4 linked regions of the Homo sapiens genome follow. The protein of the gene in region 4 interacts with the protein of the main gene of each other region in a pairwise test. Each region holds a gene or a part of one and is shown on either strand. Other genes may lie near its edges. The genes, in order: LMO2, KIAA1217, FAM81B and RINT1.

The links.
Region 1: the proteins of RINT1 (region 4) and LMO2 interact in binary tests that used the Homo sapiens proteins (3 or more experiments, as listed by UniProt).
Region 2: the proteins of RINT1 (region 4) and KIAA1217 interact in binary tests that used the Homo sapiens proteins (3 or more experiments, as listed by UniProt).
Region 3: the proteins of RINT1 (region 4) and FAM81B interact in binary tests that used the Homo sapiens proteins (3 or more experiments, as listed by UniProt).

The regions. Positions count from the first base shown.
Region 1 is NC_000011.10:33,860,829-33,868,179, forward strand, and holds part of LMO2 (rhombotin-2), read right to left. Parts: intron 3,990-7,351; coding exon 3,774-3,989; intron 1-3,773. UniProt on the Homo sapiens protein: Acts with TAL1/SCL to regulate red blood cell development. Also acts with LDB1 to maintain erythroid precursors in an immature state.
Region 2 is NC_000010.11:24,519,948-24,527,298, reverse strand, and holds part of KIAA1217 (sickle tail protein homolog), read right to left. Parts: intron 7,177-7,351; coding exon 7,046-7,176; intron 5,518-7,045; coding exon 5,370-5,517; intron 2,977-5,369; coding exon 2,535-2,976; intron 1,828-2,534; exon of another isoform or gene 1,737-1,827; intron 521-1,736; exon of another isoform or gene 483-520; intron 1-482. UniProt on the Homo sapiens protein: Required for normal development of intervertebral disks.
Region 3 is NC_000005.10:95,386,417-95,394,402, reverse strand, and holds the start of FAM81B (protein FAM81B), read right to left. Parts: upstream 3,038-7,986; 5' UTR 3,014-3,037; coding exon 2,890-3,013; intron 1,610-2,889; coding exon 1,506-1,609; intron 1-1,505.
Region 4 is NC_000007.14:105,548,983-105,556,333, reverse strand, and holds part of RINT1 (RAD50-interacting protein 1), read right to left. Parts: intron 6,280-7,351; coding exon 6,169-6,279; intron 6,074-6,168; coding exon 5,848-6,073; intron 4,765-5,847; coding exon 4,627-4,764; intron 1,307-4,626; coding exon 1,107-1,306; intron 1-1,106. UniProt on the Homo sapiens protein: Involved in regulation of membrane traffic between the Golgi and the endoplasmic reticulum (ER); the function is proposed to depend on its association in the NRZ complex which is believed to play a role in SNARE assembly at the ER.

The sequences.
Region 1 (7,351 bases), on a different chromosome or scaffold from region 4:
CCCTACCCAACTGAGACACCCTGGGGAGAAGGCCCAGCAGTCTGTGCGTTAATGAACACTTCCGGGGGACTGGTTGCAGGCTGACATTTGAGAATCAACAGCAAAAGTGCAGTAACACAAGTACCGGAAGCAGAGAAGACCCAGCTTCAATGTCCCGGACCAGCCCTGAGTGACCCTGGAGAGACCTCTGATTCTCTGAGCCTCAGTGAAATGGCAGCCATCATAGGCTCCACCTCACTCAGCTGTTAAAACAACCAAACGAAGCATGTCAGGGCACCCATGGTCAAGGGCTAAGCCAACGCTGGTTATGTTTTAACACATCTTGGGTGTATTCCCAGCTGTGCCAGTCTTGCTGCAGGAAGTAATTTTCACTCGTGGCTGAAAACATAGCATGTTAGCAGGTGGTTTCTACATAAAACCTTTAGGACAGTTTTAGGTGAATGCTTGCTCTTATTGGAAGTTCTGGTTGATTTCAGGATATCAGAGAATCAGTGGGTACATTCTGAGAGGTTGTAGGGGACCTAAGGGCAGTTGACACATTTTGCAATATTTGGGCGAGATTAATGGAATTGACAAGAGGTGGTCTGTGAGTGGAGAGCTCATTGTTCGGGCCAGGGCCAGCTAATTTGCCTCTGAATCCTGCTTTCCATTTGAAGATCTCTGAGTGTTTTCAAAGCACCGCCTGGGAGCAAACTCATTACTGGGGGGAGAACATTTTATCCCAACGTAGCAGATGGTGGAGCTGCAGGTAACCGCCACATTGGAGGTCACAGAGTGGAAAGACAGTTCTGGTTTCCTGACTGCTCTGTAAGTTAAGTTTGGGCCTGAGCAAGGATGAACGACTGAGAAAACAGTGTGCATGGAATGAATCCAACTGCCTGGGGTGTGCGATCCTTAAGGAAGGAGGGAGCTTATTAAAGGGAAGTCAGGGGGTAAATTACAACCCACATCAGGCAGCTATGAAGGGAAGGACAAAGGACGAATATGTGGGAGACAAGTTCAGGTCCCAGCATGACCTCTAACTTGCCAGGTGACCTGAGCAAATGGAGTCCCCTGTACAGGCTTCTGTGACTTAAGCCATAAAGCAAGGGAACTGAAAAAGAAGGTCTCTGTAGCCCCTTCCAGCTCTGGGATTCGGAGATTCTAATATTAGTAAAAAATAAGCCGGGACTTGACACCTAACTTGAGCATTAACCTCTGGCACCAAGAATTGGTATCTTAGGCTGGATATCCCAGAAGCAGCCCCTGAGGCAAGGATTGATGTGCCAGTGATTTATGAATGAGGCATTCTCAGGAAAAACCTGGAAGGCAGCAGGGGAGGCTGGAGGGAAGGGGAGGAAGCCAAGCCAAGTTGTATCCTCAGGCAAAGTCCCTCAGAGGGGAGGGACCCTGGAATATAAGTTATGCCTGGCTCCAGGCAAGGCTGCGGGGCTTGGTACTCCCACCATGTCTGTCACTGGTTAAGGTCCGTTGGGGGTCTAGTTGGGGCAGGCATACTTCTGGCTCTAACAGATTCAGGTGCTGGCTGTTAAAAGCAAAACCACTGCCATCACCGCCACCCCACCACTCCCAGCACACAAGAATTAGTGAAAAGGGATCCAAGGAGATCTGGCTCAGCACAGACATGAACAGCTGCTCTTGGGTTCCCAACAATACAACACAGCAGCAGAGTTGAGGTTCTGCATGGGGGTCTCATGAATGTTTGAAGCTAAATGTCGGAAAAGAACTGTAACAGGCAACTCAGCCATTGGAAATCCTCACGGGGACAAGTTATCCTAGGGGTGAAGAACTCAAACACATTAGAGGGCCCGTTCAGTTACTCCTCCAACTTGCCTTGTTAAAAGATCCTGCCAGATATACTAAGAATGCCAGTAAACAAGACCTTGGCTAAAGGACCATCCCTGACGCAAAAGACAATTTTTCTCCTCTGTCAAGAGATGTCCCATCTTAAGCTCTCTGCTGCCCATTTTAATAACAATAATATAAATATTAAAGAATGGCTGGAAATGCCTGCACTAATGCAGAGTTAATTAACATGTTGCCTAGGAATGTGGCAGGGAGAAGAATTATTTCATGTCACCAAGACACAAGTTAATTAACATTGGGTTCTCCCAGACTGTTTTTTTTTTCCTCTCCTTTTTGAAAATGGAAAGGATTAACAAGCCCAGGCAGCACTGGTTTTATTCCTGAATGTTATATAAAACGGTAGAGATAGGGAGAAGCTGGGGCTCTTCTGACCTTACTCTATCTGCACTTCAGTTAATAAGATTCAAATGATTTGACAGGGATGGAGTCAAGGGTCCGATGGGAATCATTTACCCGTCTGCCCTCTCACTGACTTGGCAAACTGGGAGTGAGCAAAACCAGGTCTGTATTTATCCAAGTTCTATTTTCTGTGACTTAAAAAAAAGAAAACTGACCAAAATTATAAGCATGATCATTGCAAAATCCTACTTATTTTCTCGGAACCACCATATCTGCAAGGACTGCAAGAACTTTATCTGGGAATTCAAGGACAAAAAGCTTCTTCTAACAGTCTTTAGGTAAAGCTTCCTTCACTGTGAAACTGCCTGCAGTTTTTTTGGTTTTGTTTTGTTTCTATAATGTAAAATGCTCTGAGGGCAGGTTTGGGAGGAAAAGCTGGCCCAGCAGCCAAGGGCGCTGAGGTCTCAACAAGCTTCCATGGGTTGGATGGTCCTGGTGTATCAGGGAAGCATGCTTCACAGACCCTCTGCTCCAGGAAAACGGAGAAATACTGACAGCTACACAGTTGAGCAGATCTGACAGTAGAGGGCACAGAGACAGTTACCTCCACAGCAGCTCATCGGAAACTAGAAACACTAGTACATTCTAGGCAAAGGCTTTCACACAGTGCTGGAAAATTCGGATGGCCAATAGGATGGCCCAGAGCATGGGAGATGTCCTCAGCTCCTGTCTTACTTGGTGTTGTCGAGTTCCTATTTTACTCTTCCATTCTTCCATCCCTTTGCTCATTAGATTGGAAAATAATGATTATGTAAGAGCAGCTAACATCTATTTGATCCATACCAAGCCAAGTAGTTTATCTGCATTATTCCATCAAATCCTCCCCACATCCTTAGAGGTAGGTGCTATTATCATCCCCATTTTACAGATAAGGAAATCGAGGCTTAGGAAGGTTAAATAACTTGCCCAAGGCCACCAAGCTGGGAAGCAATGGTATTGGGACTCAAACCTCCAACTGCCTACAGGGCCTTTGCCTTTCTGCTCTTCGAAGACTGCCTTCCTGCTATGAGTCAATGCTTGGAGCTCCATATGCTTTCTATTTTTAAATTTCTCATCATATAATACTGGAGTCATACAAAAAAAATTTATAACATACATATATGTTCTGAAGCATTCAAATGAGGTCCTCAGAGCCCACCTCCAAACTTAGAAACACTCCCAGTCCCTCTGATCCTCCGTGTGTACTCCTCCTCAATCCCATCCCCTAGCTTCTCCCGCTCCCCAAGGGAAGCACTTTTCTGAATTTTGGGTATACAATTCTCTTGCCTTTAAAGATATTAGTATTTTACCACATAGGAACGTAACCCTGAGAACATGCTTCTCAAACAGGAAGAAATGCCCTCTGCTTCTCAGCACAGGAGCTGAGACTCAGCCTCTGCAGTCTGACCTCTTTCTATAGGTGGTGTCCGAGCCTGGAGCAGGGTAAGGGGCAACACACACCGACTGCAGATGTCCATGGACCACCCAGCCTCCCTTCCGAGGGCCCAGTGGAGTGCCGGGGAGGGTACCTGAGATAGTCTCTCCGGCAGAGCTTCCGGCCCAGTTTGTAGTAGAGGCGCCGCCCCACCTCACCCAGCCGGCAGCCACAGAGGTCGCAGCTCAGGCAGTCCTCGTGCCAGTACTGGTCGATGGCCTTCAGGAAGTAGCGGTCCCCAATGTTCTGCTGGCAGCCGCCGCATGTCAGCAGGGATGGGGGGATCTGCAGCACCTCATCCACTGGTTCCCTGGAGAGAAGGCCAAGCATCAGGGACAGCCTCACCAGAGTGAGACCAGCACCGAGGGTCCGAGATCGTTTTGGGCCAGACAGGGCATCTCACCTGACTGCCTTTCAGTGACCTAAGGGAGAAGGGACAGGACAACACATCCCTTGGCCAGACTGCAGAGTCCCAACCAACCTTGGGTTAAGACGGGAAAGAGCCAGACCTTACTCCCTAGATGTCTAAGAAGTAAACACAGGGCACCAAGAGGCATCAAAGGCAATTGCAGGTGGCACTGTGCCCCTGCCCATGCCCAGCACTACCTGGGCACCTCTGGTCTCCTTCTGCTTTTTCCCACTCTCCCCGCTGACTCTATCTTCACAGATCTCCCTCATTTTCCTCCTCCCATAACCTGGACACCCAAGGGCACTGCCTAACCTCAAAGGACGCACTCTGGACTAAAAGAGTCGCTCACTGCCAGGGCAGCAGATGACCCAGAGTGCTAAGAATCTGCAAATCCCCAGTGCCATCCTCCCTCCAGCCCTAACCAACTGCACAAAAGCAGAGGTGAGGAAGAAAGAAGAATGAGACCAAAAATTATTTTAGGTTGCTTTCTCTTTCCAAAATCAAAATTCCATCAGGACATAATAGGAATTCTCCTAATTTTACTTTTTTACAGAAATTCCATTTTCCATTCTTCCTACTGAAGGAATACTTGGAGGAAAATCCCATATCGTAAGGCCATTGTTACACGAAGGACATCAAATAGGCCTTTCTTTCCTTACCTGAACATTTTTATAAGAGTAAAATTGATTTGGATAAAGTTGATTTGAGGAAGAAAATGAAGTGGGGGCAATGATTATTTCAAAGAGAGTGGAAGGCAATTAAACAGACACTGACATCTCAATCCAGCAATTGTTAATAGGCTGTGACACGTGTTCTTTCGTTAATACGCCATGCATAGCATCTCCTGTTCACTTTGCTTCACTGGAATCTGAATACATTTTTACATTTAAAAATAAATAACTTTGCTAAAAGAAAATAAAGGAGTGGAAGGAATTATTCTAGTGTCCCCCACATGGGACACAGCAAACACTTAATACGTGTTGATTTATAATAATTAGCAAGTGTTCTCTGGAACCTTACTTAAACACAAATCTATTTCTTAAAAATCTATTATGTTTCAAAAAACAGACCTTCTTCCATCTGTAAAATTCCCAAAGGGAGTTTCCTCCTGGGTACCCTGCAGGTATAAATCCATGTCTCCTATTTCTAACTGGTACTAACTTACCAGGCGACCTTGTGTCCTAATTGGTCTGTGCCCATAAAGCCCAGCAGCCATTATACTTGGGGACAGGAGGCTAGGTGGCTCAATGTCTATAACACTCTGACAACTTCAGGTGATCCCGTCATGTGAAGTATGAAGTGTTCCTTATGAATATTTAGGAGTGCTAAAGCCATGCCCACACTTTCTAGACACAGTGTAACAGCACTTCATGAGACTATCATCTTTGGAACAAGAAAATGGGAAGCTCAAGTTAGTTTATCTGGGGAAAAAAAATGGCCAGGTACAGTGGCTCACGCTTGTAATCCCAGCACTTTGGGAGGCCAAGGCAGGAGGATCACTTGAGCCCAGGAGTTTGAGGCCAGCCTGGGCAACGTGGCAAAATCCTGTTTCTACAAAACATATAAAAAATTGCCCAGGCTTGGTGGCATGAGCCAGTAGTCCCAGCTACCCAGGAGGCTGAGGTGGGAGGATCATCTGAGCCCAGGAAGTTGAGGCTGCAGTGAGCACTGCACTCTAGACTAGACAACACAGTGAGACCCTAGCTCAAAAAAATTCAAAACTATAGTTTTTTGTTTGTTTGTTTTGAGACACAGTTTCACTCTTATTGCCCAGGCTGGAGTGCAATGGCACAATCTCGGCTCACTGCAACCTCCACCTCCTGGGTTCAAGTGATTCTCCCGCTTCAGCCTCCCGAATAGCTGGGATTACAGGTGTCCACCACCAGGCCCAGCTAATTTTTTTTATTTTAAGTAGAGACGAGGTTTCATTCACTGAAGCCTTGCTTTCTTTCCTTTGTTTCTACAGATTGTATATAAGGACTGCCATTTCCCCTTCTAATAACTAATACCCTAGCTTTTTCATGTGTATCAACTCAGAGTTGCATCTCTTCTCTTTCCACAGCCCATGGTCTTACTCTGGGCTTTCAAAACCACTCATGGAACCTGGACGCACATTGGATGTCCCGATGTTGATGCTGCCAAAGGACTGTGAAAGAAGAGAATTTGCCCTTAGCTGGTGCAAAACTGCCTGGAATTCAAATGAACTGCTCTTGTTACTCACAGGGGAGGCAGTGGGGGCCACCAGTAGCACAGCAAGGGAATCTGTGTTCATGAATTCTGGCTGGCTTTCTGTCCAAATGTTTCATTTGCATATAGCTAGGCAAGTCTCCATCTGTAATTTGGAGATGCTGATTGTAATGACCCAAGCTGGATTTGAGGAAGTACACAATGAAGCATCTAGTAGGATACTGGACAACAGGAGGAATGTAAAGTAAAAGAGTTACGGTGATGGCCTGAGATGAGATGGAGAAGTAAAGTATAAGATATTGGCTCTGTCTTTCTATACTTAATTAATGATAATATCACATTATACTTAGTGGACAATCCAAGACAATGACTGAATTAGATTGATTCACCCTCAAATTAATATTTTATATTCTCCCAGACCCTTATCTTGAATATTACACCTGAGTATCATTTAAGCCTGGATTTCTGGGACAATCATAACAATTTCTAAGGGCATGGGGAGAATGTGCTGCAGCAATTTCTCAACTGGCTTGTCCCTCTTTGATCAGAATCTGTCTTCGTTGGGCAAATAGTGAAGTGAAGGAAGGAGCTGGTGAGCCTCCAGCAGTAGATATCTGTTGTATTAGGAAGTTAGGATGTTTCAGTTTCTAACCTCAGTGAAAAAGCACAAACTTTGAAAGAAGCAAACTTCCTTCAGGGAAATGAAACCTTCAGATTAATCTTCTATTGAAAGGATTAGTGACTAAATTCTGCTGATCAAAAAGGCATGAGGCACCAATTCATCCAATTCACTCCCTTATTGTGTTACTATGATCTTGCCCAGTCTCTGAAACTCAGAGCTCAGTTTTAAGTTTATTTTAAAAAAGTGATCAAACCACCCTTTAAACCCATTGTTTGCATAAACATACTTTTAAAAAGGAATGTTATTTTTCTCCTGAGAATTTGTTGAAGGAAGTGGGGGTTTTTGTTATAACAAACCTAGCTCATTACAGAACTGGTGTCTTAACCTTCAAGACTGAATAGTGATGTTTATATTCTCATTGGATGGTGGTACTTCCTGTGTTTTATGAGAATAT
Region 2 (7,351 bases), on a different chromosome or scaffold from region 4:
GTTTTCATTGTAGAAGAGATGTCCAAGCAAACAAACAAAACCCACAACACTAAGAACAAAAATCCTGTGTCTTAGTACCACTTCTATCAAAGAATTGCTATATGCCCTCTGGGTCACATTGTCCTACTTATAAAATGAGGGAGGAGGTATTATTTAGATGACCTGTAAACTCCTTTAAGTTCCACAACAGAGAGTTATACATAAAATGCATTTTAAAACATCTGCATACTTTTTAAAAGAATGTTTTCTGTGACTTTTGAACCAGCACATTAATAATTCTAAGGGGGCAGAGTGGAAATTCACACCAAGATTAGTGGAACCTTATAACCTAAGAATTGGCAAAGATCATTGAATCAACATATGGGAACTTTGAGGTCCAGCGAGATGGAGAATTTGCCCAAGTTTCATTACATATAAATAATAGCCACCACCTTCACCATTCTAACCCTCCTTTATTTTTTCTTCCTAGCATTTATTACCACCTGGCATATACTTTTTTTCTGTCTCTTCCTACAAGTAGGTAAGTGTCTTGAGGGCAGAGACTTTGTCTCTTCTGTTCACTGGCTTTCCCCCGAGCCTACGAGGGCCTGGTACATAACAGGCTCAGTAATCTCTGTTGAATGAATAAAGCTCACCCCATTTGTCAGTGGCAGAGCTGGCAGAAAAACCCAGGCCTCCATACCTGTGGATCAGGGCATTTTCAGAGATGACTCGTGTCTCCTCTCAAAGCGTAAAATACACACATCACAATGATAACTATGCCCACTAGGTTCTCAACAGAGATTTGTTAAATAAGAGTGCCATCATACTGACATCCTTTAAATGTTGAGATGTTTAAAGTGGCAAGACGTCTTAAGTGACGGATCTGCCAATTCTTAGGAGGAAATGTCTTTCCCTCCCCTGCCCTACTAGGTACTGGGAATAGAATCACACTCTGTCAATCACATTTCTGTACCCTTGTGATATGCGTTTTTAAAATAGCTGGCTCTGATTAGAGGCAAGCCAGGGCCCTTGCGACACAGAGAAACCACCTAGTGTTCAGAGGCCCCGAGGCTGCGACCGTGGCTGTGGCAGTTTTGCCAGGTCGTCTCGATATACCCAACCTGACCTCTCCACTGGTGACTTTCAGTAGAGGCAGGAGGGTTACGACAAGGTTGTTGGGTGATAAAGCAAATGAGTGGAGGAAAAGTTACGAGGCAAGAAGAAAAAAGAAGTAGAAAAGACAAATGTGTTATCGGAGCACTGGTACCAGCCCTTGATAAAAAGAATATTTAAAAACATAATATGTCATTTGATCTTATGATTTTTAAGACAGGGTCTCACTCTGTCGCCCAGGCTAGAGTGCAGTGGCGTGATCTTGGCTCACTGAAGCCTTGACCTCCCTGGGCCTGGGTGATCCACCCACCTCAACCCCCTGAGTAGCTGGGGCTACAGGCACGCGCCACCATGCCCAGCTAATTTTTGTATTTTTTTTGGTAGAGTTGGGACTTTGTCATGTTGCCCAGGCTAGTCTTGCACTCATGTTCCAGTGATCGACCCGCCTCGGCCTCCCAAAGTGCTGGTATTACAGGTGTGAGCCACCACACATGGCCTCATGTCATTTGGTCTTAAGACCTAGTTTTCTCTTTTCATTCTGACTGCTCTACCGTTCATTCTTAGATGACTATAGTAATTTCTCATCCAGCTCTCTTAATTCTAGACCCACCACCTCAATCAATTCTGTACGTTGTTTCTAGATTAATTTCCAGAAGATGCCATTTAAAAAAAATCACGGATTAGAGCTGCAGCATTTCTCTGATACCTTCCAAATAAACTCCAAACATCATGGACTGTTTTTCAAGCACTCAAGTCAGTTTCCAGCCCATTTCCCCAGTCTTAGGTCCTCGTTCTTGTTCCACTTAGACAGGCTTAGTCATGGTCCCAGACTTTGATCCAGCATTTTAGTATCCTAGGATGCCCTCACCACCCTCCCATGCTAACCAGGTTCCACTTATCATCTAGATGTGTGGCAGACCCTCCCCAGGCTGCCTTCACCTCAGTGGAGTGCTTGAAGCCGGCTTGTCCTGGCCCAGGAGAGCTGATTGTTACATTTCTCCCAACTTCAGCAGTAGTGGTGTCATGTCATAACTTGAAATCAGCCATGGTTGCGATATTTACACCATGGAAATTGGCAAATGCCACACACAGATCTGCACGCACCCACTCTGCCCCCCCACCCCGCCGCCACAACCGCTACCAGAGAGCTGGTTGTTAAACATTTACCAGCACACTGCTGTCTCACCTTCCTACAGGCCAGGTGTCTCACCTTCCTACAGGCCAGGTGTCTCACCTTCCTACAGGCCAGGTGTCTCACCCTTCTCTGAAACCACATGACCTATCTCTTAACCTGGCCACTGAATCCCACTTCCACTTCCAAAACCCTGTCTCTGATCCATACACAATCATGTCATCATCTGACCTATAAATGCTTTAAGGGAAAGGTCCATGTATCAGACTCCTTTATGGGGTTATGAGAAACAGAAATAGGACTCTACCTCGATAGACACTGCCCTGTTCTTGGCACTCACACTGTGGATTTCTTCAATGAACAAGCTCTGCATGGCAGACCCATTCATGGGTATCTGTGGGGACTGCGGAGCCTGCGACATCTGCAGAGTGGAGGTTGCTTCCTGGGGGACGGCTGGGGAGCTGGCCACGTGAGGCAAGTTCTGAGCAGGGTTCAGCAGGGCCACGGAGTGCTGGGAGGGCTGGATGACCACAGGGGAGCTCTGCGCGTGGCGAACCATCATGCCGGACAAAGGCACCACTTCCGACTTCGCATCGCCAGGGGCACCTGTGCTGTGGAAGGGCTGGCCGGAGGTGTGGGCTGCCTCCTCCTGACTCTTCAGGACTTCTGCGGCTGTGGCCTTTTCCATAGCCATGTACTGTGCGGCTTGGGCTGCGTCCGTGCCTTTCAGGAGCCCATCAGTGACATGTCTAGGAGAAACCATGCACAGCGGCATTAACCCTCATGTCACTTTCTCATGGTGGTATACTTGCAGGCTATGTCATCCCAAAGCCAGGTGAGAGTCACACATCCCAAAGCTCAGAGTAGCCGCTTAGGGACATGTATAGACATATCCCTTTCTGCTGGTGCAGTTGTGCTCAGACCCTTGCAACTCCATCATTGTTTGGGGGGTGGGTAGAAGAAAATGAATCATGAGTCTAACAGCAGCCTCTCTAACTCCTCCGCCTGATTCTGGCCTATGCAGCCCTCAAATATGCTTAGTTCTAAGCCAAAAGTTTGCTTATTCCCTCCTCCTTTCACTGCCAAGCATCTTGGGTGGGCCGCCCACATTCTAATTCCTTCTGTTTGCTCTTCTGTATCTCAACCTGTTGCTCACTGGCTTCCCCACCTGGATTCAACGAAGTCTTGCCACAAGGTACACAGTGACTCGAAATCTAACGGTCGTGTTTATTCCTCAACTTCCTCTGGTGTTTGGAGTCATTTGAAGCTATATGTCCCTCCCCACCCATGATGTAGTGGAAAAGACAGAGTGTCTGGTGTCAGATCTGTGTTTGAATAGCAGTTAGTTCATGCTTTATATAACGTTGAGAACTTCGCCTCTTTAAGCCTCAGGTGCTTTTGCATAAAATGGAGTGATGAAGATGGGGATGACGATGGTGATGATAATGACTTCCTCAGGACCTGTCGTTAGGACTAACATTAACATTGTAAAGTTATGTGTGAGGCAATGTCAAACATGGTACTTGACCTCTAATTTTTAGTTAGTCCCTCATCCCCTTTTTATTATGTTACTTTTTTTTATTTGAAAAAAGACATTGCATTCTATAACTCTTCTGCTACTCAGTGCTCTTTCTTTTGCTGTTTCTTTTTTTACCCCAATCCCTTAGATTCTTAGAGATCCCCAAGGATTTGTTCTCTCCTTTCCCTATCATTCTGCCTCAACCATCTCTTCCATTTTCTTTTCTTTTAAGAAACAGGGCCTCGCTCTGTTGCCCAGGCTGGAGTGCAGTGGCTCAATCCTAGCCCACTGCAGCCTCAAACTCTTACGTTCAAGAGATCTTCCTGCCTCAGCCTCCTAAGTAGCTGGGACTACAGGTGTATACCACCCTTCCTGGCTAATTTTTAAAATAATTTTTTGTAGAGATGGGGTCTTGCTCTGTCACCCAGGCTGGAGTGCAGTGGTGTGATCATAGCTCACTGCAGCCTTGAACTCCTGGCCTAAGTGATCCTCCCATCTCAGCCTCCTGAGTAGCTGGGATTACGAGCACGTGCCACTGCACCCAGTGATCTTTCCCATTTTCAATAATCATCTCCATGAAGCTGACTTCATGCTCTGTCTCCCAGGCTGGAGTGCAGTGGCACAACCTCGGCTCACTGTAGCCTCCACCTCCTGGGTTCAAGTAATTCTCCTCCCTCAGCCTCCCAAGTAGCTGGGATTACAGGCACGCCACCGCCTGTAATACCTATGGGAATTCACTATGTTGGCCAGGCTAGTCTCCAACTCCTGACCTCAAGTGATCCACCCACCTCAGCTCCCAAAGTGCGGGGATGACAGGTGTGAGCCACTGTGCCTGGCCAGTGAAGGTACTTCTGGCAACACAAATTTTGCATGCATATGTGTTTTCAGTGAGTGTGGAGTCCTGGAATTTTCTTTGCAGTGAAATTCCTGAATGTCTTTTGGTCTTTACTCCACTGTGACCTCTTCGGTGAGCAGGTTTACCTTTGGTAAGGAAGCCTGGCCCAGGCCACTCAAAATGCTTTGTTCCTCTTTTCTAGGTGGGACCAACAGTCTCACAGATACTCCTTCAGGAGGTCATTTAAGAAAGACTTTGTTTACTTCTATTACATTTCTTTGAACTGAATTCATCTATGCCCCTGAAGTGAAGGAGGCTAATAAACTATTTCAATCAATTTTTCAACTTCAAAATGTTATTTTAAAAAACCCACCTTCCGATGATTTTTTTAAAAGAAATGGAGTCTTTCTCTGTTGCCCAGGCTGGAGTGCAGTGGCTCAGTCATAGCTCACTGCAGCCTCATACTCCTGGGCTCAAGGGATCCTTCTGCCTGTACCTCCTGAGTGGCCACCACACCTGGCCTTTCAGATGATTTTAAAACAATGTTTACTGTGTCTATTAATTTTAAACCCTAGGATGGGCTCCACCTAGCAATCCTGTGTTGAAGAATTAGAACCTCAAGCCATATTGCAATAAAAGTTCAAGGGTGAGAAGGACTTGGGGCTTTTCCTCAGGACACTGGATGTGTCCTGGGAGCATGGTGGAAGGCTGAAGTCCCAAACGTCCACTCTCGGTTTCCCAGTGCACCCCTCCGCAGGCCACCCCCAGCACGATGAGGGCCCGGTCACCTCCGCAGCATGGTCAGGACGTCTGTCATGCTGCGCACACGCTTCAGGAGACTGTCCAGCTTGTGTGGCTCCTCCTTCAGAAACCGCACGGCCTCCACTTCTATGCGCAGGATGGCTCGCATCTTGTTTTGTAAGGTTGGAAATTCTCCTGCAGGCCCAAACCAGCAGGTGAATTGGAGGAGAAAAAGCCAGAACGACAACCCTCATCCCGCACTCCGATACTGGACAGAGAAGTGCAGAGTTCACAAGCCACAGGGTGGCTCACACATCTTCAGGTGGCAGTGGGTTAAGAGCACAGAGGAGCATTGGAGAAACTCACCTTGGGCAAGGGTAAAGCTCCTCTAGGCCTGTTTCCTGTCTGTGTATTTGGGATAAAGCCAATTGACCATTAGGGTTATTATTATTACTTTTTAATTTGACTGGCTGACAGGGTCTCACTCTGTCATCCAGGCTGGAGTGCAGTGGCATGATCAGAGCTCACTGGAGCCTCAAACACCTGGGCTCAAGCGATCCTCCTGCCTCAGCTTCCTGGATAGCTGGGACTATTTAGGTGCTGCACACCACCATGCCCAGCTAATTCAACTTTTTTTTTCTTTTTTTGAGATGGAGTCTCCCTCTGTCACCCAGGCTGGAGTGCAGTGGCATGATCTTGGCTTACTGTAACCTCCGCCTCCTGGGTTCAAGTAATTCTCCTGCCTCAGCTGAGTAGCTGGGACTACAGGTTTGTGCCACCATGCCCAGCTAATTTTTGTATTTTTAGTACAGACAGGGTTTTACTCTGTTGGCTAGGCTGGTTTCGAACTCCTGACCTCAAGTGATCTGCCCGCCTCAGCCTCCCAAAGTGGCATGAGCCACTACGCCTGGCCAGAAAAAAAAAAAAAAAAAAACTTTTTTTTTTTTTTTAGAGATGGGGTTTTGTTATGTTTCCTAGGCTGGTCTTGAACTCCTGGCCTCAGGCGATTTTCCTGCCTTGGCCTCCCAAAGTGCTAGGATTGCAGGCGTGAGCCACCGTGCCTGGTTACAGGTTTTTAATTTAATTTAATTTTTTATTTTTTGTTTTTTATTTTTATTTTTTGGAGACAGGGTCTCACTCTGCCACCCAGGCTGCCAGGCTGGAGTGCAGTGGTGCAATGGTGGCTCACCATAGCCTTGACCTCACAGGCTCAAGAGATCCTACCACCTCAGCCTCCTAAGTAGCTGGTACCACAGGCATGCACCACCACACCTGGCTAATTTTTTTTTGTGTGTGTGTGTATATATATATATATATATATATATTTTTTTTTTTTTTTTTTTTTTTTTGGTAGAGATGTGAGTCTCTCTATATTGCCCAGGCTGGTCTTGAACTCCTGGGATCAAGTGATCCTCCCACCTTGTGTTTTTAACGGGTTTGGCACATGCATCCCGGTGCACTGTAAGAGCCTAGCAAATAGAAAGTGTTACTGGAATCATTTAGTGTGAAATCTTACAGCACCCACTCTAATACCAGCTCCAAGAAGAGGGGGATGTGCACCTACTTTGTGCTGTGGGGTATCCCAAGTGTCCAGAACAATGCCTGGCACATGTAGACGTTTAATAAATACTTGCATACATGAATGAATCCTCTATGTGGCAGATTTTTAAACACCGCAGGAAAGACAGCTCAGACTCCTCCCCCGACCCAGCAGAAAGTTTACCTTTCAGGGTAGCTACAGCCTCTCCCACTTGACGCAGGAGGAAAGCCCCGTCTTCCACGTCTTTCAGAGTAACCAATCGGCTGGCTGCCGTGGAGTCCTTCTTCAAGTCTTCAACAAAGTCTTCCAACTCGCTGCGGGAGCAAGGACACCAGCACATAGAGCTGAACACGAGGCCTCACAGAGGAAGAGGAGGGGCCGAGTGCCCGTCTCAGCCTCTGATTTTGTGTAGAGCCCCAGCTCCTCCCCCCTGCCTTTCGTGTGGTGGTGGTGGAGGGGGGTCGCTCATCTTTTAACAGTGGCTGGGAA
Region 3 (7,986 bases), on a different chromosome or scaffold from region 4:
GGTTGGTCCCTCCTTATATGTTTGGAGAGTAGTCCTCTCCAAGTATTTGTGGAATTAAAGTGTATGATGAATACAGTGTCCAAGGGCACTAACTTGTCCTCCTTTCTCCTTCTGAAGTGTAACAATTAGATCTATGTTTTATTTTTATTTTATTAATTTTTAAGTCTTACTTGAAAGACCACAAGTAGCATCTTCTTAAAAACACACCTACAACACACACTATTTAAGTGACAAATGTTAAGCATAACAATGGAGGAATATTTGGAAAAGTATAGAAAAGTTAAAGATACAGAATAAAAATTCTCGCTTGTAATTTTGCTACCTAGAACAAAAGCCACTGATGTTGGCTTTTGGTGCAATTTTTTAAATGTAATTTTTAGGTATCTAAGACAGTATTTAAATTTTTATATCTTTGCTAATTGAACATAAGAGTCAGTTCTGTTTTATCCTCATTCCTATAAGCTAGGATGTTATTATATATAAAAACTGTCTCACAAACAACTTGATGGCCACTATGGGAATTTTTTTACATATATCAGTTTTATCCATTTCATAATAATGCTTTGAATGTTATAGCTTTTTGGTTTTATGGGCTATGAAATACGTTCTTGTATATGACATAATTTTATTTGACATGAATGCCCTATAAAGTGGATATCATTACCTTCCCATTAGTGTAAGGATGACATTAGTTACCTTAAGAAGCTGAAACCCTTATTATGGAAAGAAATTAAGATGACTATTTTTTATAGGTGAGGAGCTTCAGGATCAGAGAAGTACGGGACTTGCCCAAGATCATGTAGATGATGATGATAATCATACTGTAGCCCTTCCTACTTGCTAAGCACTTACTTAAGTGACTCATTCAAACCCACAATAACTTTGTATGATAAGCCTAATTCACCCATTTTACAGAAGAAGAAACAGAGGTTAAGTAATCATTCCAAAGTCCCACAGCTAGTATGTGGTACAGCCTATTATATAATACATACCAAAAATCAATGTTTGATATTGTGCTAGTGCTTTATGTAACAAGTGACTGCATCTGCCTCTTGTTATGTAAATTACAAGGTGTTAAGAGAAGTGCAAAAAAAGTCTAAAAACACTGCTTTAAAAAATGTTCTTTTTAACGGAGAAGATACGACAAGTTCTAATAAAGGAAACATTCTATTTAGCTATACCGGTTTTCATGTTAGAGATAAAGATAAAGTCTGCACCTTGAGTTTATCATGGTTCCTTTTGAATCATCATAAAACATACATAATGATCAACTTAAAAGAATTTTAGCCCCATATATTAAAAATCAGTCTAATTAATGAAATTGTAAATTGAGGTCATTTTTCTTTTCAGCTTGTGTTTTCAGCAGCCATTTTGCCAAGACAGAACAAACAGGAAATGTGGGAGAACTATTCTTCCAGAACTTCTTAAACTCTCTAAGCACTCTAAACTTTAAAGAAGCTGAGCAAAGTATTCTACTTTTAATGTGAATATTGAAAAGTACTTGCTTTCTTTTCTTGGTTATTGTCTGAGCCAGGAAGGGGGCCATCAGGTTCAACTGGCTGTTCCTCTGCAGTCGCAGTTGGAGAGGCACTTTTGTTTACATTTGTATCTAGGTAACCAGAATGCTGAATCAGGTCAGGAACTATGACAAGTGAATTTTTGCAGTGCTGCTAATTTTTTTTTAATTGAGGGCAGTTTCTGTACATATAGCTTGGCTTAAAGGGAGGCTTTCAATTTGCTTTACATTTCCCCTCTCCTCACTTATCCCAATTCTCCCCCATCCCCCCATAACATCTATAGTTAGCTAGAAGAGCATTTCTTTACAGATACTTCTATAAGACCTTTAGAAACTTTTTTAGGATCAGACAGCTCTAAAATAATCAGGAATGTATTTTTTTTAAATTATACTTTAAGTCCTGGGATACACGTGCAGAACATGCAGGTTTGTTACGTAGGTATACACGTGCCATGGTGGTTTGCTGCACCCATCAGCCCATCATCTACATTAGGTATTTCTCCTAATACTATTCCTCCTCTAGCCCCCAACCCCCAACAGGCCCCAGTGTGTGATGTTCCCCTCCCTGTGTCCATGTGTTCTCATTGTTCAACTCCCACTTGTGAGTGAGAACATGTGGTGTTTGGTTTTCCGTTCCTGTGTTAGTTTGCTGAGAATGATGGTTTCCAGCTTCATCCATGTCCCTGCAAAGGGACATGAACTCATCCTTTTTTATGGCTGCATAGTATTCCATGGTGTATATGTGCGGCATTTTCTTTATCCAGTCTATCATTGATGGGCATTTGGGTTGGTTCCAAGTCTTTGCTATTGTGAACAGTGCTGCAATAAACATACGTGTGCATGTGTCTTTATAGTAGAATGATTTATAGTCCTTTGGGTATATACCCATTAATGGGATTGCTGGATCAAATGGTATTTCTAGTTCTAGATCCTTGAGGAATCACCTCACTGTCTTCCACATGGTTGAACTAATTTACACTCCCACCAACAGTATAAAAGCGTTCCTATTTCTCCACATCCTCCCCAGCATCTGTTGTTTCCTGACTTTTTAATGGTTACTATTCTAACTGGCATGAGATGGTATCTCATTGTAGTTTTGATTTGCATTTCTGTAATGACAAGTGATGATGAGCTTTTTCTCGTATGTTTTGGCTGCATAAATGTCTTCTTTTGAGAAGTGTCTGTTCACATCCTTTGCCCACTTTTTGATGGGGTTTTTTTTTCTTGTACATTTGTTTAAGTTATTACTCTGTTGTGCCCAAGCCTTCTGAGGGTCTTCATTGGGATTCATTATTTTGTTTATATGTAATAAGAAACAGAAGAAAGATAGTGAAGTAGGAGAAATTTAGAGACCTCGAATAGTCCATAAGTACCTGAACTCATGATGCTTGCTTTTCCAGCTTTATTTTTTGTAGATTTGATATTTTTGAAAAACAATCTCTGTGATTTTTTTCTTTTTTCTGAGGAAGCCAATGTACCAAGGAATTGTAATTGCATCCTAACTAAGGTCTTCCTGTTTCTGGGGCCTCTTCCCAAGGGTGACTTAGTAGCATTGTGACTGCAGGAAGGATCTATGATGTCAGTGTGGCTGGCCCTCACAACTGAAGTCAGGAAATCCCTGGGATTTAGAAGCTTTGAATGTTTTCTGTAGTGCTCATCATCATACAAATCACTAAGCCTTTCACTTCTTTGTCTCATGGGGTGGGAAGTGGCCATTGTTATACTGATATTTCACACTCTTCTCCTGATTTCATCTTCACAGTTTGAAAAGTGACGAGTTATCATCAAGCTAGACAAAGAGGAAATGAAATGCTGCGGTATGCCCAAATCTTTCTCCAAGTATGTTAGGGAGGAAGCTAACTCTTCTAGGTTAGAAGGGGACTTCACAGATAGTGCAGCACTGATGAAAAGTGACATGGGTCAGAGTTTTACAGAAATGAAAATATTGAACTTTGCCTTTGTAGGGGAAATTTTGTTCAGTTATTTAGCCAAAAGGGGGTGGATTGTTTTAGCTGTAAAATGTTTGTCTGAGTTTTAAAATTAGAATTTGCATGTTTGTTAGTACTACTTGGCCTCCATATACAGAAATGATGCTTTGGCTAAGTTGTTGTCCAAATTATGGTATCAGATTTGCCTTGTTTAAAGGCACACAATGTTCAGGATGCTGAGTGACAAACTTTGATCCCACAGATAAAGGACACCTATGATTTGGGCTTCCATGCATATCCCCTAGTCCTAAGCTAAGCCCTTAAAACTCAAAGATGCAGTAGTTCATGGTTTGCAAGCAGTCCAAAAGGCTCATTATGCTACCCTAATCACCATTGTATCTAGTGCCAAGGGAGACTGACACACAGCAGTGACTAAGAGCAGGTGGCTACAGATTCTGAGAGAGTGGATTGGAACCCTGACTCCTCAACCTACCAGCTGTTTAGTTTGGACAAAATTACATCACCTCTTTAAGCCTCAACTTTCTCCTCTGTGAAATGAGCTAATAATATCGATCCCATAAGATGGTTGAGAGGATTAAATGTAATAATATACTTACAGCGCTCAGCTGAGGGCGGTGCCAGGAATCCACTAAAAGATAACTATTATTAGCGATTATTTCACAAGGTGCCAATTATCCAAGAAACAGTCACAAGCAGAGTCTGTGTGAGAAAGAAAAACTAGATTTAACCTTGCTTAACAACTTTTTAAGATTCTTTCTCTTCTTAAATTCAGCTTTTAATCCATGGTATTTGGTTAGAAAAATGGGCCCTACTAAAATGGACAATTTTGGTAGGTTTGTTCTCTAAACATAAATGGCTATTCAATTTTAACATAACAATGCACATAATATATATGTATATTATTAATGTCTGCTCTGGTTTGAATCTCTCCACCAAAACTCATGTTGAAATGTAATTGCCATTCTTTTTTTTTTTTTTTTGAGTTGTAGTCTTGCACTGTCACCCAGGCTGGAGTGCAATAGTGCGATCTTGGCTCACTGTAAGCTTGGCCTCCCAGATTCATGCCATTCTCCTGCCTCAGCCTCCCAAATAGCTGGGACTACAGGTGCCCACCACCACACTCGGCTAATTTTTTGTATTTTTAGTAGAGACAGGGTTTCATCGTGTTAGCCAGGATGGTCTCGATTTCCTGACCTCGTGATCTGCCCACCTCGGCCTCCCAAAGTGCTGGGATTACAGGCGTGAGCCACCGTGCCTGGCCTATTGCCATTCTAATAGTATTAGGAAGTGGAGGCTTTAAGAAGTGATTAGGTCATGAGGGCTCTCTCCTAATGAATGAATTAAAGCCCTTATTGTGGGAATGAGTTAGTTATCATAGGAGTGGGCTCCTGATAGAAAGGATGAGTTTGGCTTAGTTTATCTCTTTCTGTCTTGCATTCTTATTTCCCTTCTTGCTATGTTATGATGTAATATAAAGATGTATCCTCTCAATCTTGGACTTCCCAGCCTCTGGAACCATGAGCCAAATAAATGCCCAGACTATGGTATTCTTTTTTTAGACAGAGTCTTGCTCTGTTGCCCAGCCTGGAGTGCAGTGGTGCGATCTTGGCTCACTGCAACCTCTGCCTCCAAAGTTCAAGCAATTCTCATGCCTTAGCCTCCTGAGTAGCTGGGACTACAGGTGTGCACTGCCATATCTGACTAATTTTTGTATTTTTAGTGGAGACGGAGTTTCACCATGTTGGCCAGGCTGGTCTCAAACTCCTGACCTCAAGTGATCCACCCATCTCAGCCTCCCAAAGTGCTGGGATTACTGGTGTGAGCCACCATTCCAGGCCCCAGACTATGGTATTCTGTTATAGCAGAAGAAGATGGACTCAAATAGCTTCCCACTTGTCTAAAATGCATATGTAAAATCCTTCTCAGAAGTCAATAATCTTCATATATCTTTTCTAATCTAGGGCTAATAAAAGCACAGAAATTAAAAATGTTCAATTTCAATCTTTAAAGTGGCCTTATACTATAGTATATTTAATATAGATCTAAAGACATAATCCTGACATGGTGGTCAGTGATGGGGGATAGTCAGTGTTGAAGGTCATCAGACAGAAACGCTATGTGTTGTGCACTACACAACCCTCTGGGGCACTCATGGTAACACTGTAGATTTTCATATTTGTTACAGTAATTTTTCAGGCATATATCAAGAAAATATCTCATTTTACCAAAGAAAGTCAGGATAATTTTCTGACATGGAAGTAAAGGGTTTTGAGAAAGCGGCACCTATTTTTAACTCACACAAGGAGTGTACAGTGAGGCACTGTCAATGACCAACTGCATATATGATGGTGGTCCCATAAGATTTTAGTGGAGTGGAAAAATTCCTATTATCTAGTGATGTTGTAGCCATCATAACATTGCAGTGCAATGCATTACTCATGTGTTTGTGGTGATACTGGTGTAAACAAACTTGCTGAACTGCCAGTTGTATAAAGGTATAGCACATGCAATGCTGTACAGTACATAATAGTTGCTAATGATCATAAACAACTATGTTACTGGTTTATGTATTTACTACAGTATACTTGTTATCATTTTTTAAAATTTTTAGTTGACACATAACTGTACATATTTATGGGCTACAGAGTGATATTTAGATACACGTATACAATGTGTAACAACCAAATCAGGGTAATTAGCATATCATCACCTCAATCATTTATCATTTTTTTGTGTTGTGAATATTCAAAATCCTCTCTTCCAGCTTTTTGAAAATATACAGTAAATTATAGTTCACCATTTTCACCCTACAGTGCTGCAGAACATCAGAATCCATTTCTCCTATCTAGCTGTAATTTTGTTTTCATTAACACACTCTCCTCATTCTCTCCTCCCCTTACCCTTCCCAGCCTCACGTTTCTATTCTTTATTTCCATGAACTCAATTTTTTTTTTCTGCCACATGTAAGTAACAACATGCAGTATTTATCTTTCTGTTTTTGGCTTATTTTGCTTAACATAATGTCCTCCAGCCTCATCCACATTGCTGCAAATGACAGGATTTCATTCCTTTGTATAGCTAAATAGTATTCCATTGGGTATATAAACCACATTTTCTTTATCCATTCATCTATTGATGGACATTTAGGTTGAAACCATATCTTAGCTATTGTGAATAGCACTGCAACAAACATGGGAATCTAGGTGTCCCTTTGATATACTGATTTCCTTTCCAGTAGTGGGACTGCTGGATCATATGTTAGTTCTATGTTTAGTTTTTTGAGAAGCCTCTACAGTGATTTCCATATTGACTGTACTCATTCACATGCCCACCAACAGTGCATAAGTGCTCTCTTTTCTCTGCATCCTCACCAGCATTTGTTAACTTTTGTCTTTTTGATAATAGGCATCCTAACTGGGGTGAGGTGGTATCTCATTGTGGTTTTAATTTGTATTTCCCTTATGATTAGTGATGTTGAGCATTTGAGCATTTTTTCATATTTCTTTTGGCCATTTGTATGTCTTCTTTTGAGAAATGTCTTTTTTTTTTTTTTTTTTTTTGGCATGGAGTTTCATTCTGTTGCCTAGGCTGGAGTGCAGTGGTGTGATCTCAGTTCACTGCAACCTCTGCATCCTGCGTTCAAGTGATTCTCCTGCCTCAGCCTCCCTAGTAGCTGGAAGTACAGGCGTGTGCCACCACGCCTGGCTAATTTTTGTATTTTTGGTAGAGATGGGGTTTCACCATATTGGCCAGGCTAGTCTTGAACTCTTGACCTTGGGTGATCTGCCTGCCTCGGCCTCCCAAAGTATTGAGATTACAGGTATGAGCCACTGCACCCGGCGCTTTGCCTACTTTTTAGTCAGATGATTTGCTGCTGTTGAGCTGTTTGAGTTCCTTATATGTTCTGGATATTAATCCCTTGTCAGATGAATAATTTGCCAATATATTTTCTCATTCTAATAGTTGTCTTTTTACCCTTTGATAGTTTTCTTTGCTGTGAAGAAGTTTTTGAGTTAAATATAGTCCTATTTGTCTATTTTTGTTTCCATTGCCTGTGCTTTTGAAGTCTTTAAAATCTTTGCCTAATGTCCTGAAGTGTTTCCCCTATGTTTTCTTCTAGTAGTTTTATACTTTCAAGTCTTACATTTAAGTCTTTAACTTGTTTTGAGTAGATTTTTAAATATAGTGATGGATAGTGTTCTAGTTTTGTTCTTCTGCATATGGATATTCCATTTTCCCAGCACCATTTATTGAAGAGAGTATCCTTTTACCATTATATTGTGCTTGGCACCTTTGTCAATAATCAGCTGGCTGTAAATGTGTGAATTTATTTTTGTTCCATTGGCTTATGTGTCTGTTTTTATACCAATACCATGTTATTTTAGCTACTATAGCTTTGTAGTATATTTTGAAGTCAGATACTGTAGTGTCCCCAGCTTTGTTCTTTTTGCTCAGGATTGCTTTGGCTATTCAGGGTCTTTTGTGGTTCCAAATTTTAGGAGTTTTTTTTTTTTCTATTTC
Region 4 (7,351 bases):
GCACTTTGGGAGGCAGAAGCAGGTGGATCACCTGAGGTCAGGAGTTTGAGACCAGCCTGGCCAATAAGGTGAAAACTCGTCTCTACTACTAAAAAAAAAATTAGCCAGGCATGGTGGCGGGTGCCTGTAATCCCAGCTACTCAGGAGGCTGAGGCAGGATAATCCCTTGAACCCAGGAGACAGAGGTTGCAGTGAGCCGAGATCGCACCATTGCACTCCAGCCCGGGCAACAAGAGCGAAACTCTGTCACAAAAAAAAAAAAAAGAAGTTGAGTGATAGCCACGCCACAGAAGTTCATTTTCCTATTCTATTTACTCTTGCATATATTTGAAAATTTGATACATGAAATGTTAGTTTCTTATTTTTATTTTTTGTAGAGACAGGGTCTCACTATGTTGCACAGCTGGTCATGAATTTCTGGGCTCCAGTGATCCTCCCACCTCAGCCTCCCAAGTAGCTCGGACTACAGGCATATGCCACCACACCTGGCTAATTTTATTTTATTTTTTATTCTTTGGAGAAATGGGGTCTCCCTATGTTGCCCAGGTTGGTCTCCAACTCCTGGGCTCAAGCAATTCTCCCATCTCAGCCTCCTAAAGTGCTGGGATTAAGAGCATGAGCCACTGCACCCAGCCAAATAGATTTTTAATGTATGAAACAATTAAAACTTTAAATGTTTCTTCCTATTTTCATGACTCTTTATAATCTGTCATGTTTTGAAGACATTCAAGAGGTATTAAACATTATTCTTTTATTTTCCTTAAAGTCCTGGATTGCTTTTGACATCATTATTTAATCTTAGCTCTTCCTGTGATTGCAATTACCATACATGAATATTTCCAAGTATGGTTCACTCTATAAACAACTATTTCATGAAAGGCTTGCTTGCCTTTCCAATGATTAAATACATTAAAATATCAGGACTATTTAACTACTTGAGATTTGATTGAGAAAAATGTGTATTTTAATTACACCTTTTAATTATGGCACTATGGTTCTGTCTAGCATGTTTATTTTTGCTTGCAATAGATTCAACATTTTGAAAAGTATTAATAAAATAGTTCGAACTAGTATATATTACTTAATATAAAAGCATATTAACTCACAACATTGTCAGCCCAATCTGCTAGTACTGTTGAGATGTAGTTCACAGCATTAAGAATTGCACAGTATCGAAAGCCAAGGGAAGCTCTAGTCTCTTCTTTCATCACTTGTGTTAATCGTATCCTAAAATCATCTACTAAGTCCTTCTGTAACTCCAGGAACTGAAGCTTTCGGGAAGCTGTGGGAAGATTTTTATACCTGTCTGTGGAAAAAGTTATTAAGACATATGAAGGTTTTGGTACCATCTATGATATAGTTATAAGTTTTCCCTACTGTCCTGCTTCAGTGCTTTTGTCAAAAATCAATTGACCAGTAGTCAAGAATGGATTTATTTCTGAGCTCTCTTAAGGATGTGAGTTTCAAAAGTATATACATTTGCCAAAACTCATTGAACAATACAAATAAGATCTGCACATTACACTGTATGTAAACTATACCTCAAGTTTTCAAAAAGGCAAATGAAAAAATTATACATAAAAATGACAGTTTTGGCCAGTCGTGGTGGCTCACGCCTGTAATCCCAGCACTTTGTGAGGCCAAGGCAGGTGGATCAACTGAGGTCAGGAGTTCAAGACTAGCCTGGCCAACATGGTGACACCTCATCTCTACCAAAACTACAAAAATTAGCCGGGCAGTAGTGGCGTGTGCCTGTAATCCCAGCTACTTGGGAGTCTGAGGCAGGAGAATTGCTTGAACCCGGGAGGTGGAGGTTGCAGTGAGCCAACATGGCACCACTGCTTTCCAGCCTAGGCAACAGAGTGAGACTCCATCTAACAAAAAAAAAAAAAGAAAGAAAAAAAAATGACAGTTTCTTCAACACAAATAAACAGCATTTTTTTAAAAAAGAAAGAACTTCAATAAATTAAAAGATACACATTTAAGAATTTACAGGCAGTTGGCCGGGCACGGTGGCTCACACCTGTAATCTCAGCACTTTGGGAGGCCGAGGTGGGTGGATCACGAGGTCAGGAGATCAAGACCATCCTGGCTAACACAGTGAAACCCTGTCTCTACTAGAAATACAAAAAAATTCGCCGGGCACAGTGGCTCACGCCTGTAATCCCAGCACTTTGGGAGGCTGAGGCGGGTGGATCACGAGGTCAGAAGATCAATACCATCCTGGCTAACACGGTGAAACCCCATCTCTACTAAAAATACAAAAAATTAGCCGAGTGTGGTGGCGGGTGCCTGTAGTCCCAGCTACTCGGGAGGCTGAGGCAGGAGAATGGCGTGAACCCGGGAGGCAGAGCTTGCGGTGAGCTGAGATGGCGCCACTGCACTCCAGCCTGGGCGACAGAGTGAGACTCCATCTCAAAAAAAAAAAAAAAAAAAAAAAAAAAAATTAGCTGGGTATGGTGACGGGTGCCTGTAGTTCCAGCTACTCAGGAGGCTGAGGTAGGAGAATGGTGTGAACCCAGGAGGTGGAGCTTGCAGTGAGCCGAGATTGCGCCACAGCACTCCAGCCTGGGCGACAGAGCGAGACTCTGTCTCAAAGAAAAAAAAAAAAGACAATTTACAGGCAGGCATGGTGGCTCACGCCTGTAATCCCAGCACTTTGGGAGGCCGAGGCAGGTGGATCACCTGAGGTCAGGAGTTCGAGACCAGTCTGGGCAATATGAAACCCCATCTCTAGTAGAGCCGCCACCATGCCTGGCTAATTTTTTTGTATTTTTAGTAGAGACGGGGTTTCACTGTGTTAGCCAGGATGGTCTCGATCTCCTGACCTCGTGACCTGCCCACCTCAGCCTCCCAAAGTGCTGGGATTACAGGTGTGAGCCACCGTGCCTGGCCAACTGCCTGTAAATTTTTGTATTTTTAGTAAAAATACAAAAAAAAATTAACCAGGCATGGTGGCAGGCATCTGTAATCCCAGCTACTCAGGAGGCTGAGGTAGGAGAATTGCTTGGACCCAGGAGGCGGAGGTTGCAGTAAGCCGAGATTGCGCCATTGCACTCCAGCCTGGGTGACAAGAGCGAAATTCTGTCTCAAAAAAAAGAATTTACAATTGACATGATGAGATGTCTGAAATTTTCTTTGAAATACTCCAGAAAAAAAAAATTGAGGAGTAAAATATAACAGAAAAGTGATAATTGCTTTAAACTTTGGCAATAGGTACCTGAGAGTTCATCATATTATCCTACTTTTGTGTATGTTTGAAAATTTTCTGAATAAAAAGTTTTTAAGAGACATGAATTTTCCTTAATTTTTTTGTCTTAGTATTTTTCATATTTTTCTTATAGTTAAAAATATGGAATGATGACTGGGCACGGTGGCTCATGCCTGTAATCCCAGCACTTTGGGAGGCCGAGGCAGGTGGATCACAAGGTCAGGAGTTCAAGACCAGCCTGGCTAAGATGGTGAAACCCCGTCTCTACTAAAAATTCAAAAATTAGCTGGGCGTGGCAGCAGGTGCCTATAATCCCAGCTACTTGGGAGGCGGAGGCAAAAGAATTGCTTGATCCTGGGCAGCAGAGGTTGCAGTGAGCCGAGATCATGCCACTGCACTCCAGCCTGGGTGACAGAGTGAGACTCCATCTCAAAAAAAAAAAAAAAAAAAAAAAAAGGAATTATTTACTGACTGGGCTGGAATGATACTTCTTCAGGTTACCAGACAAGCCTAAGAAACGGACAGGCTAGTGGTTGACGAAGGTGAAGAGGGCCAGGGATGGTGGCAATGAGGGTCCAGTGGCACCTGGACAACAAGCAGGCCCACAAGGGGGCAACGTGATTGGCTAAAGACCAACCAGGGCCAGAGGATGCTAGGCTACCCTCCAGCCAGAGAATCCCTGCACTGTAACAAAAGTTCCTATTACTACTCCAATCCTTAAAATTACTTCATTATTTTACTCTCTTCTGCAATCTTTGATAAATCAAGATCAAGACAATATTTAAAATATAGGCCAATCACCATTTACTGAAGACACCTAAAAAGCCCAATAGCAAGACAGTTTGGATAATAAAATTAAATTCCTATTTAATTGTTTTTGTGTAATTATTCAGGAAGTTTTCCTTCATGTATACCAATGTTTAAATCCTTAAATTATTAAAAACCCAAAAGTTAGAATATTGTGTTAGATTTCTACCAATATAGAAACTGAATTTGAAGATAACAACCATCATATAATATTAATTTGCTGAGCCACTTATTTATTGATTACTTTATTGACAGGGTCTCACTCTGTCACCAAGGCTGGACTGCAGTGGCGTGATCATGGCTCACTGCAACCTCTACCTCCCATGCTCAAAAAATCCTCCCACCTCAGCCTCCCAAGTAGCTGGGACTACAGGCACACACCACCACAACTGGCTAATTTCTGTATTTTTTCGGAAGAGAGGGCATTTCACCATGTACCCCAGGCTGTTCTCGAACTCCTGGGCTCAAGCAACCTGCCCGTCTCAGCCTCTCAAAGTGCTAGGATTACAGGCATGAGCCACTGCACCCAGCCTACTGAGCTACTTTAAAAACTACCACGTGAAAACAGTACTTTTAAAACAAAGTCATATCTTAAAAGACATACTTACCAGTTATAACCAAGAGTAGAGTCATAAAAGTTTCTGCACAATCTGGAACTTTCATTTCATCCACGTCAGTGATATCCTTATATTGCGATACCCAGGCAGCTTCTGAGGAAAGCATTGAGTCCATTTTTTGAAGAGCAACTGATAAGCAGACAAAACAATTATGTCAATTAAGTAGTTACAGTCGTTCCTAATTATTCAACTTGTAATTTTTTAGGAATGATGGCTTTTCTATAAAAAAGAAACAAACCTACAATATCCCACTGGTTGTACTAAATTTAACTTAATTAATGCTTTAAACAGGATACTTTACTCCCATCCCCAAATTCTGAAAATAGTTATGTTGACTAGATAAGCTACAGTAAAAAATATTCTATTGGCCAGGCACGGTGGCTCACACCAGTAATCCCAGCACTCCAGGAGGCCAAGGTGGGTGGATTGCTTGAGTCTAGGAGTTCACAACCAGCTTGGGCAAAACCCCAGGGAAACCCCATCTCTACAAAAAATACAAAAAGTAGCCAGGCATGGCTTGCATATACCTATACTCCCAGCTACTGGGGTGGCTGAGGCAGGAGGATCACCTGAGCCCCAGAGGTCGAGGCTGCAGTAAGCCATGATCGGCCCACTCCACTCTAGCCTCGGTGACAAAGTGAGACCCTATCTCAAAAATAAAAAAATAAAATATTCTGACACTTTGGGAGGCCAAGGCAGGTGGATTACTTGAAGTCAGGAGTTCCAGACCAGCCTGGCCAACATGTTGTAACCCTGTCACTCCTAAAAACAGAAAAATTAGCCAGGCGTGGTAGTGCGTGCCTGTAATCCTAACTACTCGGGAGGCTGAGACAGGAGAATCGCTTGAACGCAGGGGGTGGAGGTTGCAATGAGCTGAGATCAAACTACTGCACTTTAGCCTGGACAACAGAGCAAGAGTCTGTCCCAAAATAAATAAATAAAAATAAAATAAATTATATGATAAAATCTATAAAACAAACACCCCACTGGCTTGACTATTCCACTCTAGAAATATGTAGAGTGTAATTTCAGGAAAAATGGAAGTTTCATGTGAAGTAAAGAAAAGATTATCTCTGAAGGAAACAGAAAACCCTGAAAAGGAAATTTCAAATGGCTCTAGTTCCTATTTAGAACTGGAGAAGAAAAATATCAAAAATGTATACCCACAGAAACAGACATATCTCCCTACCATCTGGCCACATCAGCACTTACATTTTCTCTCCACCGTCAACCATCTCTGAAAACAGGTTTCCTCTGATAGAATATGCATACAACTAGCAAAAGTGCCAGGATAGCCATGAACACTGTGTAGCTCCCTTTCAAACAAGAGTACTTCATCCACCAAATGACAGAAGAGATTGTCATCATATAGCAGACAAGGAATATCAGTGGCTAACTTCTCAAGAACCAGCATCATAAGGCCCCGAGAAAATTCAAGCTAAAAAAATACACAAACATGAGGTATGTAAATAAAAAGTTATCCATGCACACATACAGTTCTAAAACAGAAACACTTATGACTGAGTCTCTTACCCTTGCGTTTACCAAAGAGCCTACTTTGTCTAATATTGGCTGAATCTTCTCATCCAGAAATTCAGTATGGTTTCCAATCCACATAAGTACTTGAGCCAAGTACCATTCTGGCTAAGGAAGGAGGAAAATAGTTTGAATTCTTAAGTCATTCCAATTAGAAAGTTACAATTACATGGTTCTATTTAATTGTATATGCACAACACTTATAAAAATTAGTTGAAAATTCCTGTATGTAAGAGCACAATTTCTACTCCAAATTTTAAACTCCTGCAAGGCTTAATAATCAAATGTTTGCTAATGTACTCCCAACAAATTTCAATAATATGACTTAAGTCAATAAACTCATAAATTTACAATGCCATATATATTTAAAACCTAGCACTTCAATAATATGTAAAATGATGAGTATTACAAAGAACTGATGGCCTATATTTTTTGAAATAGCATTTGAAAATAATTTTAATATTATTTTCTTATGGTTTTTATTTTCAAAAAGTAAATCAAGAAAAAAATTGCTGGCCAGGCGTGGCAGCTCATGCCTGTAATCCCAGCACTTTGGGAGGCCGAGGTGGGTGGATCAGCTGAGGTCAGAAGTTCAAGACCAGACTGGTCAACATGGTGAAACCCCGTCTCACCTAAATATACAAAAATTAGCTGGGCGTGGTGGTGGGCACCTGTAATCCCAGCTACTCAAGAGGCTGAGGCAGGAGAATCGCTTGAACGCGGGAGGCAGAGGTTGCAGTGAGCCGAGATCACACCATTGCGCTCCAGCCTGGGCAACAAGAGTGAAACTTCGTTCCAAAAAAAAAAAATTGCTAGTCTGCATTACAAAAACTACGCATGTCTTATACAGGTTTAAGAGCAGAAATACCAAGTACATGCCAGGCGCAGTGGCTCACTCCTGTAATCCCAGCACTTTGGGAGGCTAAGTCAGGTGGATCACCTGAGGTCAGGAGTTCCAGACCAGCCTGACCAATATGGTGAAACCCATCTCTACTAAAATTACAAAAATTAGTCCAGTGTGGTGACATGTGCCTGTAGTCCCAGCTACTTGGGAGGCTGAGGCAGGAGAATCGCTTGAACCTGGGAGGTGGAGGTTGCAGTGAGCAGAGATTGTGCCACTGCACTCCAGCCTGGGTGACAGAGCGAGACTCCAACTCACAAAAAAAAAAAAAGAAAAGAA